Regions from separate parts of the Homo sapiens genome. Here region 1 is linked to region 2. A link means that fine-mapping ties the variant in region 2 to the expression of a gene that starts in the linked region. Tissue or cell type: whole blood. Region 2 holds a variant in brackets; the other region holds the start of a gene. All regions are shown on one strand. Distances are between the middles of the regions.

What was found. PIP is the estimated chance that this variant, and not a neighbour inherited with it, causes the effect.
Region 1: it holds the start of VWF, and the variant in region 2 is fine-mapped to the expression of VWF in whole blood (INTERVAL, PIP above 0.99).

The regions. Positions count from the first base shown.
Region 1 is chr12:6,123,420-6,126,115 of GRCh38, reverse strand. It overlaps VWF (von Willebrand factor), which reads left to right and starts at 1,446. Exons shown (of 52, transcript NM_000552.5): 1 at 1,446-1,695.
Region 2 is chr12:6,182,926-6,185,949 of GRCh38, reverse strand. No RefSeq gene overlaps it. Among named protein-coding and RNA genes, the nearest start is that of CD9, 16 kb to the left of the region's middle. RefSeq lists an enhancer at 2,614-2,793. The variant T/C (reference allele first, on the strand shown) is at 1,796.

The DNA of each region.
Region 1 (2,696 bases), 60 kb after region 2:
AGCACAGCATTTAAAGATATTTTGTAATGAAAGGGTTTTCAGATTAGTTATTTAGTTTTTTTAAATAAGAGCTGGAAGTGGAAATCCCGATGGCCTTTTCTTTTCTTTTCTTTTTTTTCTTGAGACGGAGTCTTGCTCTGTCACCCAGGCTGGAGTGCAGTGGCTCGATCTCAGCTCACTGCAAGCTCCGCCTCCCGGGTTCACGCCATTCTCCTGCCTCAGCCTCCCGAGTAGCTGGGACTACAGGCGCCCGCCACCACGCCTGGCTAATTTTTTGTGTTTTTAGTAGAGACGGGGTTTCACTATGTTAGCCAGGATGGTCTTGATCCCTTGACCTCGTGATCCGCCCACCTCGGCCTCCCAAAGTGCTGGGATTACAGGCGTGAACCACCGTGCCCGGCCCCCCAATGGCCTTTTCTACTGTCTCATGCTGATTCTGCCTCTGGTGCCATTTTTCTTCCTTGGGAGTGTGCATCTTCCTCTCCTGGGGCGGTAAAGGGAGTAGCAGAGTGCGAGGTATGTGGGAAGGGAGGAGGTTGGAACCTAGTGGTTTCTCAAAGTCTTAGGGCAGGAGGTATCATGGAGAAGCAGTGAGGAGGTCTTCCATACCCAGACATGCCTCAGGGTGCTTGTCTCAGTGCCTGGAATCCCAGCACGAGAGTCATCTTCCCCCCACCGCTGCCCATTGCATCAGTTACTTATTTTAGTAGGAATTAGTTTAGCAGATGGTGTTGAGAATTAGGCTTTTGGGAATGGGAGGCTGGGAAGAAGAATTGTGTGTGTGTGTGTGTGTGTGTGTGTGTGTGTGTGTGTGTAAGATCAGGGTACCAGAAGTGGGTGGAAATGTCCTTGAGAATTAGAATTATTAGAATGTAGCAACAGTAGAAGTATTAGACTCAAACCATCACTCCCCACCTTCACCATTTTACAAAGGCTTAGGCTTGTGGCCAAGACCTTCATCTTTAGCCGATCCATTCAACCCTGGCCAGGATCCAAATGGACTGTTTTTGTCAGGGCCAGGACCGGATCCTTCATACCTGGGGTGCATAGGAAGTGTTAGTACTCCCCTTCCTCCAAACACAGCAGCAAAATTGGCTCAGGTTGAGGTGTTTTTCTCAACTTCCCTGGAGTCCAGCCCTGGAAGCTGGATCAGGAAGCTGTGTTGTTCTACTGTGATTCCCCCTGGCCTGTATCAGCTTGCCCTGAAACAACCAGCATTCCTGGTTATCCCACACAGGTGGGGCACTCTAGGAAGACCAGGGATCAAGTGTGGGGGTGTAGGGATAGGGGGTGTTTGGGGAGGGCAAGGCAGTTAATTAAGGCAGCTGCCAGGAGGTCTCCCTCCAAACTCTACAAAGCTTTATCAGCTTGGAGGTACTTCTAATACCATTTCCTTTCATTGTTTCCTTTTGGTAATTAAAAGGAGGCCAATCCCCTGTTGTGGCAGCTCACAGCTATTGTGGTGGGAAAGGGAGGGTGGTTGGTGGATGTCACAGCTTGGGCTTTATCTCCCCCAGCAGTGGGGACTCCACAGCCCCTGGGCTACATAACAGCAAGACAGTCCGGAGCTGTAGCAGACCTGATTGAGCCTTTGCAGCAGCTGAGAGCATGGCCTAGGGTGGGCGGCACCATTGTCCAGCAGCTGAGTTTCCCAGGGACCTTGGAGATAGCCGCAGCCCTCATTTGCAGGGGAAGGTATGGCCTTTGGAAGGAGAGCTGGCTCAGTTGTGGGAGGAAGATGCAGGACTGACTGATCCCTGCTCCTGGGGAGCTGGAGTTCTCTGTCGCTGGACTAGAAGGGCTTTGTTTGGAGGGGCAATTCAATTCAGCCAGGGATGATCCTAATACTCCCTCCTCCACTTGCCTCTGAGGGTCCTGGGGCTGCTTTTCTTCATGCAGTGGGTTTTACTGTTTGATAGTACTTCACTCAAATGAGTTGGAATGAAGTTTGCCCTCACCTCTGAGAACCTGGGAGCAGCTGAATGTACCTGCGTGTTAGGACTGGGAGGGGACACCTGCTTGGAGACCGAGACCTGGCAGTATCTGACATCTCAGTGTTCCTTCCACAGATGTATCACAGATTGGCTTGATTTCACCTTTGGCTGGATGGGACCTTAGGTAGGAAGGGAGTCACCCCCAGTGAATCTCAGGCAGCAGATTCTGCACTTCATTTAACAACTTTTCCCGAGGAGAGGGGCTACAGCAGGGGCTCTAAGTGACTTGGGGTACGCTCTGCCAGCCAGGATGAATTGTCCCTCTCTTGGGGGTCACACAGTGGGGAAGTCTGCCTGCATCCAGGGCCGCTGGACTCCTGTCCATTTTTTCAGATGAACTCAGCAAACATTTGCTGGGCATCTCCTGGGTGCTAAGCATCTTGCCAGGTGCTGGGGTTGGAGGCAAGGGAGACAGCCTTTGCTCTTGTGAAGGCACTTGTGGTACAGAGTCAGGGGCCAACAAGCAAACCGTCAAGTTGGTGGTTCCTGAGCATTCTCTATGTCTGGGCTGCTGTGGTGGGCACACAAGTGTAAGACGGTTCCTACTCGCCAGTTTGGATGCAGAGGCAGGAAGGAATGAGGTGTGTGTTAGCTCCCAGCTGCTTCAGGAGGCAGGGATGTGAGGCCCAGCGGGCCTGGAGGGAAGGCAGCGTTTTCCTCCTGTCTTGGGCCTGGGACTGCTGTCTGTGGAAAGGTGCCCAC
Region 2 (3,024 bases):
TCCATGAAGCATTAGATTTTTATTTTAAATTTCATTTAAAAATAGATCATTTGTTTATATAACTGAAAAATAAAGATACAAGAGAGGGAAACGTGTTTCTCCTGGAAACTGTTAATCTGTAACAGAGATTTAGGAGTTCTGTCCACCAAGGGCAACGTGTGGGCCTGATTCTTGAATCCTGATGCAGACAGACCAGTTATTAAAAAAAAGGTTTTGTAGGCAGTTAGGGAAATTTAAATATGGACTAAGGACTAGATGATGTTAAGGAAATATTGTTAACTTTCTTACGTGTGATGATGGCATTGTGGTTATGTGTTTTTTGTTTTTGTTTTTTTTTCTCTCTGAGACGGAGTCTCGCTCTGTCGCCCAGGCTGGAGTGCAGTGGCGCGATCTCGGCACACTGCAAGCTCCGCCTCCCGGGTTCACGCCATTCTCCTGCCTCAGCCTCCCCAGTAGCTGGGACTACAGGCGCCCGCCACTACGCCCAGCTAATTTTTTTGTATTTTTAGTAGAGACAGGGTTTCACCGTGTTAGCCAGGATGGTCTCGATCTCCTGACCTCGTGATCCGCCCGCCTCGGCCCCCCAAAGTGCTGGGATTACAGGCATGAGCCACTGCGCCCGGCCATGGTTATGTTTCTGAGAAAACCGTATCTCTTAGAGATACACGCTGCAGTTTTTATGGGTAGAATGATATGATGTCTGGGATTTGCTTTAAATTGTTCAGTCCCCTTCCCAAAAAGTGGAGAGATAAAATGCAATAAGAATGCAAAATCGTTGATGCTGAGCGATGAGTATATGGGATTCATTATACTGTTCTCTCTACTTTTGCGTGTGTTTGAACACTTGCATAACGACAGCAAAAATCTCCATCCAGTCTTGTCCCCATCAGGCTAGCTCTTCCCCAATACTGGTTCCTTAATGTATCCTTCATTATGCAAATACTAGTATATATTGTTATTCTCCCCATTTAAGAATTTTTTAACACCAGAAGAAGCACCTTGCTACTGATTCGGCACCTTGCTCTTTTCTCTCTCTCTCTCTTTTTTTTTTTTTTTTTAGTAGAGTTTTGTTTGTTTGTTTTTAGTAGAGACGGGGTTTCACTGTGTTAACCAGGATGGTCTCGATCTCCTGACCTTGTGATCCACCCGCCTTGGCCTCCCAAAGTGCTGGGATTACAGGCGTGAGCCACCACACCCAGCCAATTTTTTTGTATTTTTAGTAGAGATGGGGTTTTGCCATGTTGGCCAGGCTGGTCTTGAACTCCTGACCTCAGGTGATCCGCCCGCCTCAGCCTTCCAAAGTGCTGAGATTACAGGTGTGAGCCACCGCGCCTGGCCTCTTTTCTCTCCTTTTTATATGGCTGGCAGGATAATGGCCCCCACAAAGGTGACCACACCTTAATCCCTGCCAGGTGTGCATGTTACCTTACTTGGCAAAAAGAACTTTGCAGATGTGATTAAGGACTTTGAGATGGGGAGAGTATCCTGAATTATCCAAGTGGGCTCAATCTAATCCTATGGATCCTTAAAGTCAGATAATCTTTCCTGGCTGTGGTCAGAGGGAACTGGGACAAAGGGTTAGAGAGACATGACAATGGTGGCTTTGCAGACAGAGGAGGGGCCAGGAGCCAAGGAATGCAGGCAGCCTCTAGAAGCTGGGAAAGGCAAGGAAAGGGATTCTCCCCTGCAGCCTCCAGAGGGGAACACAGCCCTGCCCACACTGAGATTTTAGCCCAGTGAGACCCACATGTCAGACTGCTGACCTCCAGAAGTGTGCAATAAATATGTGTTAAAC[T/C]TGTGATAATATGCTATAGCAACAATAGAAAACAACGGCATGATATCTCGGAGAGATTTCCGTATCAGTGCAGAAATTGAAGCAGCATCAGTTCCTTATGGTTCTACACGGGGTCTGGAGTCCAACAGATCTGGGCTTGAGTCCAGGCTCTGCCACACACTAGTTATATAATTCTGGGCAAGTTACATCACCTCTCTGAGCCTGCCTCCTCATCTGTAAAAGGGGAATACTAAGAGCTCCTGCTTCATAGTGTTGTTCTAGGATTAAATCATACAGTGCATACAAAACACTTAGCCTGGCACATAGAGAATGCTCACGAAAGAACAGCTGGTAATATGAGTTACATAACTGTGATGATTACAACAAGGAGTGTTCCCTGAGTTCTCCTGGCCTCACTGTCCTCTCTTCTGACTCCTTGCAGACTGAGAACGCAGCACATAAATGAGCCCTTGGTTTCTGCGGTACACACCCTCTCTCGTCTTGTGTGCTTGGTTCCGTCTGTGTGCAGCCCTGTCTCCTAGACTGTGGTCAGCAGGACCCTGTTTCCAATGTCCTGGGGCTGGTCATTAGGATTGCACACCGCCCGAGGGGTTGCTCTATTAACAGACGGCTTCTGGGAGTGGCTGGACATCACTGTGCCCTCACTCTTTCCAAAGTTGAGGTTCCCTGCTTCCCACGCTAAAGGCACGTCATGGGTCCAGTGGACCCTGGCATCCTCCCACACAGCATTGATTCAGAGTGGTGGTGACCTTCAGAGTCCCTCCCAATGTCCCCAACAGCCAGCTTTTGCATGAGCTTACCCCTCCTGAGGCAGGCCACTCCACTCTTGTGCAGTCTGGTTATTGGAAAGTTTCCCTCCCTTCCCATAACCTTTGTCCATGTCCTGCCCTCTGAAGCCACATGGGATGAGTCTGCCACCCCTTCCTAGTAGCAGCCCTTTGGCCTTCCAGAGGAGACTTGCAGGGGCCTGTCCCAGCCCTGCCTCTTTGTGGCTGGGTGGCCCCAGGGTTACAAGAGTTTTTGGTTTGTTGGTTGGTTTGTTTTTGAGACAGAGTTTCACTCTTATTGACCAGGCTGGAGTGCAGTGGCGCAATCTCGGCTCACTGCAACCTCTGCCTTCCGGTTTCAAGCGATTCTCCTGCCTCAGCCTCCTGAGTAGCTGGGATTACAGGTGCCCACCATCACGTCCGGCTAATTTTTGTATTTTTAGTAGAGACAGGGTTTCATCA